Regions from separate parts of the Homo sapiens genome. Here region 2 is linked to region 1. Evidence: fine-mapped expression QTL. A gene starts in region 1. The other region holds a variant in brackets. All regions are shown on one strand. Distances are from middle to middle. Region 1 holds the start of FRK (fyn related Src family tyrosine kinase). Region 2 overlaps FRK (fyn related Src family tyrosine kinase).

Region 1 (5,386 bases):
GAAAAAATATTATTGGCTACAAATGACTCTGAGAATCAAAAATAGCCATAATAATTTAGTTGCCTTATTTTGTGTTTGTAGGCAAAGAAAATCTAAATTAATAAGAACACTGCTCTCAAGCCTTTTACCCAGAATATGATACCTTCGGATTGCTTGACTTGTTTCAGTTAATTTGCTTTCTTCAGCATTTCTAATACAGTCAAGCATGAATGTAACTGAACCACTACATACGAACATAAGAGCTCCTGTTCCCAGATAGTCAGGAAATCCATTGGTCATGGCAACCCCAGAGAGTTGCAGATGAGGAAATTGAGGTCCTAAGTAGTTATATGAGTTGAATATATTTAAAACTAACAGATTATGAATTCAAGGCATGAAACATTAATATATTATTATTATAATATACATGTTATGCCAAATATAAAATATGCATAATGCCATACAGGACATAGAAATCATAAAGTAGTGAAAACAGATAAATGCACATAAGTGTATCCAATATATAAAGATATTTCCTGTAGATTATCACAGAAAGCAAATGTTCACACAGGTGATTTTCCCACTTGATAACTGATCAATTCCATTCATTAAAAGTATATTTCAATTCATTTCTATTTAAGCATAAATTAAGACCCTTCTAAACATTTATAGGTTCTTGGTGTTGAAAAGAATCTCAAAACTCAAAACTCGTCAAACCTCCCTTCATATGTGATGTATGAGTTTGGAAAGCAGAAACAATGCTCTATGGCTATTTATTATTATCTTATTCCCTGGACCAGTAAGGGACGCTCACATAAAAATAAGAAACACTTACATGAGAACATAAGAGAATCTCCAATGGTTTCCCTATTAAGAAACCATTCTATAAAATGAGTCCATTTTGGCCGGGCGCGGTGGCTCACGCCTGTAATCCCAGCACTTTGGGAGGCCGAGGCGGGCGGATCACGAGGTCAGGAGATCGAGACCATCCCGGCTAACACGGTGAAACCCCGTCTCTACTAAAAATACAAAAAAATTAGCCGGGCGTGGTGGCAGGCGCCTGTAGTCCCAGCTACTTGGAAGGCTGAGGCAGGAGAATGGCGTGAACCCGGGAGGCGGAGCTTGCAGTGAGCCGAGATCGCGCCACTGCACTCCAGCCTGGGGGACAGAGCGAGACTCCGTCTCAAAAAAAAAAAAAAAAAAAAATGAGTACATTTTTTGAAAGACATTCCCAGTCTAAGGTTTCACTGGATTCAGGAAGCAATGAGATCAGGGCCAATGACAGTCTCCATTTGCTTCCCAACCCACCAGACCCCAAGTATCCATTGTCAAGACTATGTTTTATCCACTTTGTATTCAGTCACTACTAGAATAATCTCCTTTACCCTCCCCAACTCACCAGGCCCACTACTGTCTATGCCTGGCACTTGGAGGGGTGGTAGGTGGATGGATGGATGGATGGATGGATGGGTGAATAAGTACATAAAAACTTTCCTCTTTTGTTGCAATATAATTCATATTTCATTCAAATACCAGGATAAAGTCTTTATCTCCTCTTCAAGGAGATGTTGTCCTTTTTCCTATCAAAATTTACCAAATGTCTGTAGCTGGCCAGTTTCTAATCATAATAAAAACCAAAAGATATCATAATTTGGGTAGCATATCTCAGGATCTGGGAATTAAAAAAAAATCTATATCATGATGTCACTGAGAACATTAGTATCTTCTAAGTGTTGTCTTCTACATTAGCCCTGTATATTCCCATCAGAATGAAAGGGATTAGGATTAGAGCTAGGGCTAGAGTTGATATATTACCCTGGAATGTTTCAAAAGTTTTTTTTAAAAAAAAGAATCTGAAGTTTAGATTTGAGAATATCATTAAGGGAAGTCTTATAATTTACCTTCAAACAAAATGCAATTTTATTGCTAAAGTGAGGCATGAGTTATTTTACAGCCAAAGAGAAGGTACAGTATTAAACACATCATTTGTTTATTTTGAAAATACACCCTGGACCTGTGGATGTACATACTGTAATTGAAGTCATCTCAACAACAATTACTGGCCAGTTTCACACTCACTTAGCGGGGGAGGTGTGTTTCAATTAGTGGTTTCTTGCCAGTACTTCCTCATACTTTTTAGGCAACTCTTTGGACATTAGGGGGTTGTAGAGAAGTAGAAAGGAAAACTCATTACCCAGCCCTCAGAGAGTTCAGAAATTAAGTATAAGTTTGTACTACTCACGGCTCTGCCTGTAGGCTTCTGTCCTCAGCCACGTAGTTAGAAGGAATATAGCCTTGTAGTTGCTGACTGGAGCCATCTCGTCTTTTCTCCAAGTGTCTGGCAAACCACCAGCCCTCATGCAAAGTGTCCAGAACTTGAAGTTTGTCACCTGCTCGGAAGCTCAAGTCCTCAGCAGTCCGAGCCTGGTAATCAAACAAAGCCACAAAGTAGTGGCCATGCCTCTGTGACTGGGGAGAGCAAAGGGCCCCTGGATTTTCAATCACGGTTGACTTGTCTGCCTCCGTGGACAAACAGGGGAGATAGGGTTCTAGGTACTCCCAGAGCCTCTGACAGATGTTGCTCATTGTGCCTTGGTGGGGAGAAGAGGAGCAGGGCTTCTCCCTCTCCCCTTAGTCTCTGCGATCCACCTTATCTTCCTTCACCAGGCAACTTTGAAGTCAGCACCAACTCACCATACTTCGGAGAGTATGCAAAGTCCCGTTTCAGATCAGTCCAGCAGCTGGGTTGCAGCAAGTCCTACCTGGAGAGACTTACCGGCTTGCTTTCTGTGGCTGGAGGTGCTACCCCGAGGCAAAACTGAGCAGGAGCTGGGCAGCTGCTCACTAGGAAGGTGTCTTTTCTTCTTATCTGCTTAAGAATCCCACAACAAAAATAAAATAAAATTAAAAGGGCTTTATTTAGACAAATATCTGAGAACAGAATGGTGCCATCTTGCCTTTTGTCCCAATAAAAAGTTAGCAAGAGGAAGCTACTAACCCCTGGTAAAACCTCCACGTCTTGCTTTCGCCAGGAGCTCTCCCCCTGTTTCAAGTCTGTTCCTGTCTTTCGACCAGTCCGGATCTGGACGGCTCTCTCCTTTTTGCTAATGAATAACCAACCAGCAGAGGCTGTTGCCTTTAACATTCTGAGCTATGAACAGACTGTAATAATTTCCCCTTACTTCCTGGTTTCTTTCTGTCTGTGATCTAAATGGTATTCTGACCTCTTTACCCCTCCCATCTCCCACACCCAAGATAGACCAGATCCTTTACCAAACTGTTAAAGCAGCCGCTAAAATCTATATTCCTTTTGTTTCATCCTGGAGAAACAGGCTAGCCCAGGTAGCTTTTTGTCTTGTTATGTTCCCAGCACTGAAATTCACGGCAGAGATTTTTTTCCCTGACAAATAGGAGTAGAATTGTTTTGCCACCACTAGGGGAAATTTAAAAAGGCAAATTAAAGTATTTAGGTATTTCTTGTCAGACACAGAGCAATTGGAAAAGAACCATCAAGTCACTCCCTTTTCTCATTACCAAGAATAGATTTTAATAGCTTCAAAGAATAGTCACAGTCTGGAAAAGTAAGAAAGCAGCTGACTAAAATGCTGAGAACCCAAAATGTTGCTTTTTCCCACAGACATTTAATTTCCTATCCTTCAAGTACTATTTGGGAAACACACACACACACACACACACACACACACACACGCTACACACCAACTAGGTGACCAGTAGAGAAAAAAAGAGTAGAACAGAAAAAGAGCTCTTTGCACACTGCTGTGGGGGCTCTTTCTGCTAAACTTTGACCTCCAGATCTATGCTAGTTCTTACTAACTTGGCAAGAACTCAGGAACTAATGAGACTGACATCAGGACAGCCATCTCTAGACAGGCAGTGGTTTTTGCTTGACCTTCCCTAGTTCGGAGCAGCTGTCTCACAAATATGTGCCCTGGCAAAAACAGCCGGGCAATGAGTCTGGCAGATCAACGTACGGTCATTTATACTAGTAGACAGCATTGCAAACTTGTTTATGAAGTGTCACTGATCTCTCTATAAGACTTTTTTTTTATTTCTTTCTTAAAAACAATCTTTCTAAATGTTGTGAGACCCTTGAACCTGGCTAACCTATTCCTAGTACAAGCTCATAACTTCTGTTCTTTTTCAAATTGCAAGGCATTTAGTAATCAGAATAATCAAACTCAAGAAAAAGGAAGAAAGAAAGGAAGAAAGAAAGAAAGAAGAAAGAAAAGAAAGAAAAAGAAAGAAAAGAAAGAAAGAAGGAAAGAAAGAAAGAAAGAAAAGAAAAGAAAAGAAAAAGAAAATCAGAGAACCATGGCATCAGCCCAACCTGCTATTACTTTGTGCAAAAATCAGTCCATAGCAGTGGACAGATCAATTGGTTAAAATAAAATCTTGTGTTATGCTCCCAAGTTTCTCCAATTGTCTTTGGAGTCAGAGTACAAATAACAAGTTGACAGAAGTATAAAAGCCAAAAGCTGAGCCAAATTTTTGTTGTTGCTGTTGTTGTTTTGTTTTATAATGATATGAGACCTAAAATAGACTGTATATGTAATTTCATATTATATACAAAACAGAAAATATATAATACCAAATGACCATAAAGGATATTTTGTTCCAAATACAATAATGGATGTAAAAGCATAGGATTCTATTAATGCCCCAACAGAGGCACAGATGCTGAAGTCTTCCCTGAGACATCTACATGATCTAAAAATGAAAAAAAAAAAAAGAAAAGAAAAGAAAGAAAGATTTGGAAGCAACCTGAGAGATGTATTCAAACCCAATTTGTAAGTGGGGTTTTAGATTTTTGAATTGTCGGGGTTCTAAATTCAGATATACCTTTACTATAGTTATGACAAGGCATTCTGGAAAAAGACAAAGCAGCAGACCTGCACACCACAGTCATTGAGCAAGTGAGTGAAATTCAAAAAGCGGCCAACCATCCAAAGATGTCAGGTGAGCAATGGCCTGAGAACGCAGAGCTGAGGGGTGGAAAGAGAGAAGGTTTCTTTGTGTCCATAGTACCAGAATTCTCCAGTCACTCAATCTCCAAGTCTTGCAGTTATCTTTCGTTTGCTCCCTGGTTTCTTTGAGCTAATCAATCACTGAATTCTGCTCAGTCTTCCTTTTCATTTATTCCACAAACTTTTTTTAAAGCTCCTTCTGAGCGACAGCTGGGCACCAGACAGAAAACAGAATATTCTTTCCTAGATTATTCCAGAGGCCTCCTAACTGATCTCCCTTCCTCCAGCTTATTCCCATCTCTGGCTCATCTTGCACACCAAGATGAGTGGTGTTCATAATAGTTTATAGAGTAGTTTTTATAATAGTAACAATGACTGAGGTGATAAGTCATTCCTAGTCATTACTAGTAAGAGTAGCTATC
Region 2 (5,386 bases), 43 kb before region 1:
TGACTAGAAACAAAAAAGAGACTTGGTCCAAACTTTAGAGGTGAAAAGAAATTTTCATAAGGATCTACAGGCAAAGGTGTTTTAATGAGTACATGCATTTTTTTCCGGGGAGATAATCCATTGTTTTATTAAATTCTCAGAAATGCCTGTGAAAGAAACTAACCAACTCTTTCAATAAGGCCAAGTGTTTCTTCTGTATTTACACGAGCTGGTGCCAAGGCCACAACCACAACCTACCACCTTGAAAATCACTTATTCATTTTTTATTCAAAATTTACTTATTGATATGGTTTGGCTCTGTGTCCCCACCCAAATCTCTCTCTAATTATAATCCCCATGTGTTGGGGAAGGGACCTGGTGGGAGATGACTGGATCATGAGGGTGTTTCTTCCCATGCCGTTCTCATGGTAGTGAGTTCTCACAAGAGCTGATGGTTTAAAAGTGGCAGTTTCTCTGAACTCTCTCTCTCCTGCCACCATGTAAGATGTGCCTTGCTTCCCCTTCCACCATGATTGTAAGTTTCCCGAGTCTTCCCCAGCCATCCAGAACTGTGAGACAATTAAACCTCTTTTCTTCATAAATTATCCAGTCTCAGGTAATATCTTTATAGCTGTGTGAGAACGGACTAATACAGAAAATTGATAGCAGTAGAGTGGGGCACTGCTATAAAGAAAAACTGAAAATGTGGAAGCAACTTTGGAACTAGGTAACAGGCAGATGTTGGACAGTTTGGAGGGCTCAGAAGAAGACAGGAATATGTAGGAAAGTTTGGAACTTCCTAGACACTTGTTGAACAGTTTTGATCAAAATGCTGATAGTAATATGGACAATGAATTCCAGGCTCAGTTGGTCTCAGATAGAAATGAGGAAGTTATTGGGAACTGGAGTAAAGGTCACTCATGCTATGCTTTGGCAAAGAGACTGGTGGCATTTTGTCCCTGCCCTAGTGATCTGTGGAATTGTGAACTTGACAGAGATGATTTAGGGTATCTAGCAGAAGAGATTTCTAAGCAGTGAAGCATCCAAGATGTGACCTGGCTGATTCTGAAAGCAGTCAGTCATATGCATTCACCAAGAGATTATCTGAAACTGGAACTTTTATTTATCAGGGAAGCAGAGCATAAAAGTTTGGAAAATTTGCAGCCTGATCATGTGGTAGAAAAGAAAAGCCCATTTTCTGGGGAGCAATTCAACCCAGTTGCAGAAATTTGCTTAAGTGACCAGGGGCCAAATGTTAATAGCCAAGACAATGAAGAAAATGTCTCCAAGGCATGCCAGAGATCTTCATGGCAGCCCCTCCCATCACAGGTCCAGAGGCCTAAAAGAGAAAAATGGTCTCATGGGCTGGGTACAGGGTCCTGCTGCTCTGTGCACCTTCTGGACTTGGTGCCCTATGTCTCAGCTGCTCCAGCTCCAGCTGTGGCTAAAGGAGGCCAAAGTACAGCAGAGCACAATCTCTATAGTAGGTTGACTATAGTTAACATTAATCTACTGTTCCTTATTTGAATGTTCCTAGCATGAAGAAAAGAGAAATAGTTAAGGTAATGGATATTCCAATTCAGATTATATTAATGTATCAAATTATCACATGTACCCAGAGAATATGTACATCTTTTATGTACCAATAAAAAATAATTTTAAAAACTATACTGTCTAATCTTAATCCATACATGACACAGAGACACACACACATATATGTGAATGAGTGGATGGATGTGTGTGTGTGTTTGTGTGTGTGTGTGTAGCTGCAGATACCAACATGGATGTACAGATATGTACTAGTTTTACTGCTTTGGGGGGATTAAAATGAAGCAGGTGCCCCCAGGGAGTCAAGGTGTGAGACCTGGTCTGCTACAGGTCAGAACAAGCACACACGTTCTCTTTCTTTCTTCCTTCATTCTTTCTTTCTTTCTTTCTTTTTAATAATTTAGCCCTGTATACCCAGATACTCACTAAGCATTACTATCATGAATAATTACCAATAATAACACCAATGTTAATAACTAAAGATAGTTTAAAACCCATGTAAATGCCACCCACTGGACTTTGAAATAGTAGAAACTGAACACATCCACAGAGCAGCTTGTTCTCAAAAAGAAAGCCTGAAACAGTGCCAGAAAACACATCTTTTGTTTTCAGTGTCAACAAACTATTTGTCAGGAAACAAAAGGAAGGCTCTGCCTGCACTGATGGACTTTTCTGAAATCTGAAAATTAGTTTACTGCTTGCTCCTGCTTAGAATTACAGAAAGAAGCAGTTGCACAAATACATTACAAGCTTACTCCTCAGAACTGTTGTGGAAAAAGGCAGACTGAGA[GAAGA/G]AAGAGCCCCCACCTCCCTACCTCCCAACACACACCCGTGTTACTGTTAAATCAAGCAGAAAGCTGTCTCCTTACACGTTTTAAGTTCAGCCTAAAGGTTTCTCTGTACACAGTGAACTGCAACCTAAATGGATGTGCAAACAGACTGTAACCTACTCTTGTGCCAATCACCAAGTTTTGAGCAACCAAAGGTGGCCAACTGTTCAAACCCTGTTCAAAATAAGGCAAACACCGAGCTGTAACCAATCCAGCTGTTTCTGTACCTCTTTTCAATTTTTCTACATCGCTTTTCTTTTTCTCTCCATAAGTCCCTTTCCACCAGCTGGACTCTGTCTGAGCACACTCTGGCTCAGGAGACTGCCTGATTTGCCAACAGTTCTTTGCCCAGTTAAACTCTGCTAAGTTTAATTTGTCGAGGTTTTTCTTTTATCACTACCTAAGGATTAACCTTCTCTAGGGCCTCAGTTCTCAAACTCCAGTTTCTGAAGACTGTCCCAGGAAGTGTGTACAAGGCAAATAGTCTAAGAAGGTCGGAGGTAGAGCTCAGGATGCTGTAGGTTCCCAAGTGCCACAGGCAATTCAGAGGCAGGTAACCAAGGTACTACAATTTGAAAAACACAGCTGTTTCTAGAAGAGGGGGACTTTCTCTTAACATCTTCTCCTAAATCCTGAGTCATCCTGCCATAGCCCACCTTGCACCTTTTTCTCTCCAGTCCACTCTGCCTCACACTGCCTCACACTGGACCCCACTTCTTTATTTTCAACCCTTACAAAACATTACAAATTCAATCCAAATGCTGTATAAAATTTGTGAAGAGCAAAGCTTTAAGTACAATACAGAGCAGAAAACAAGTTCAAACAGATACCAGAAATTTCTGTTCATTGAAATTTAATGTCCTTTCTGCTGAAGAGGGAATTTCCCAAAACTTTTTCCCTTATGTCTAGGGCCCCCTAATAGGTTGCTGAGGAACCACTCCTCTTCCTCCTTTCTCTGTGCCAGGGATTTTACAACAAAATTCTCCATGTTTCTGTATGCAAAGCAGTTTGATTTCCTACCCAACCCTTACTCCAAACTAGATTCTGGGTCTCCCTCTGTATACCCCAGCACTTCTTAAATTGTTCTGCTCAATTAAGGCCCATCTATTCCATGTCTTTATTCTCAGCAGCACAAACAGCCAGAGCTTTGAAAACAGAATTTTCTTTAGCACATCAAATCCTTAGGCAAAGCTCTTCTCACACCATTATCCATAGCAGATGGTAGCAACAGAATTATGCATCCTCTCGCTGTCCAGAACAAGCCTATACCCTGGGGTAAGGGTGAAAGGCAGAGTCCTTCCAGTTATATTTGTGTTTTAAATAATTCAGTTTATTAAAATTATAAGTGTCTTGAAGTAGACTAAAATGTTTGCTCTCTTACAAAGTGTTTTCATAAGAGGATATACTCTAATAATACACAATGGAAATATTATTTGTAAATAGCATGTAAACTATTTATATACAAATATGTGTTTTGAGAAACTGAAATATTCCCTGCCTCAATGACTGCCTTACTAGTAAGCATATTGCAATTAAATAAAATTTTATTCCAGAATTTTAGTGATACAAAGACATTTCCACCATGCTCTTTGCCTGGGATAATTTTTTTTTAATCATTGAAATACTCAGAGCATAATAAAATCTGACCTGTTCACTGTGACCCAGGAAAGGATTTTAAAATCTTATAGATTTGAAGAGACCTGCTGTTGGAAAGAGGGCACAGTAAAGGAACATCCTAAAGCCTTAGAATTAGAGCTTCAAGTAAGCTTGAGGAGCATATTTCTCTGAAGGTGAATGATAATAGATTCATTGCACAAGCCAGCTCCCCTCTGACTTATCTCCAGTGCATTCTTTGGATGGCAAGGCAAGGGGCTTGTGGTAGGAAAGCCTTCCTCTACAGATCAAATGAGTCTGAGCACCTTGTTCCTTTCCTTCATAGCTCTTTCCTTAGCTTACTTTGTTTTTGGTATTATTTGATTAATTCCTACTTCCCATTACACATGTAAGCTCAAGAGAGTGGAAACCTTATCTTTTACTTATCACTGAAATTCCAAGAGCCTAGCACAACACATGGTATTAAATAAACTTGCATTCATACTGTTGAATGAATAAACAGATGATTATTTGAGGATGTGAGTCTTCCACTTGAAAGTTAAAAAGCTGACCAAATAATTTCAAAACGTAGGACAAGAATATAGAGAGAATATACTGAAGATTTGGTACAGAGAGCAAAAGAACAAGTCCACTTTTACCAGTAATGAATAACCTCATAGCCAATCAGATGATCACAATCCTATGACGACGATGACAATTATAACAATCATGTAAAGAATAACATTTGGATTCCACTTTATAATTGAGTGCCATCACCTAGAATATGGCACTTATTCTCAAGGCAACTCTTGGGGATAGTCAGAGCAAGTGCTTCAAAATCCCCACTTTGTGGAAAAGGGAACTAGAAATGAGAGAAATTGCATGATTTGTCATGCAGAAATAATAAGCAGAGCCAGTGTGTTGGCAGATGTGCAAAGCAGTTACATGTGACTTCACTAAAATTGTGCAGAATAGAAAGTGGGGAGTATGGACTTGTCCTCAAATAATAATACCACTCTACAGAGTGGGTCAGAAATAGCCAATAGTTATGACTTATTAAGACCCAAACTTCAGGTTCTAAAAATGTTCCTGTAGAATAACAGAATATCTGTTTATGAAGTTAAACATTAACTCCTATTTGTTATTTAGAGGTAGGCTTGGTTGCATAAGGATTAAAATTTGAAAACAGAAAGCAAAATGAGATTCAAATAAATATTTATTTGCAATCCTAAATGTGCAGCTATTACCAATAATAAATTATGATCTTAAAGAAACTTTTCTAAACTATCAACAACAAAAAAATTGATCAAACATTTCAAAAGTAAAACCAAATTATGATTTATTCCATCTATAGAAAACAGTATTACAAAATCATTGTGACATGAAGAGCCAAAGAGAATGAAGACAAAGACTACCATAAAAAAATTTATAAAAGA

The links. PIP is the estimated chance that this variant, and not a neighbour inherited with it, causes the effect.
Region 2: its variant is fine-mapped to the expression of FRK in subcutaneous fat (GTEx, PIP 0.93).

Annotation. Positions count from the first base shown.
Region 1 is chr6:116,057,747-116,063,132 of GRCh38, forward strand. It overlaps FRK (fyn related Src family tyrosine kinase), which reads right to left and starts at 3,145. Exons shown (of 8, transcript NM_002031.3): 1 at 2,222-3,145. The coding sequence starts at 2,565.
Region 2 is chr6:116,014,832-116,020,217 of GRCh38, forward strand. The region is part of intron 1 of FRK (fyn related Src family tyrosine kinase); the gene reads right to left. Among named protein-coding and RNA genes, the nearest start is that of FRK, 43 kb to the right of the region's middle. The variant GAAGA/G (reference allele first, on the strand shown) is at 2,318.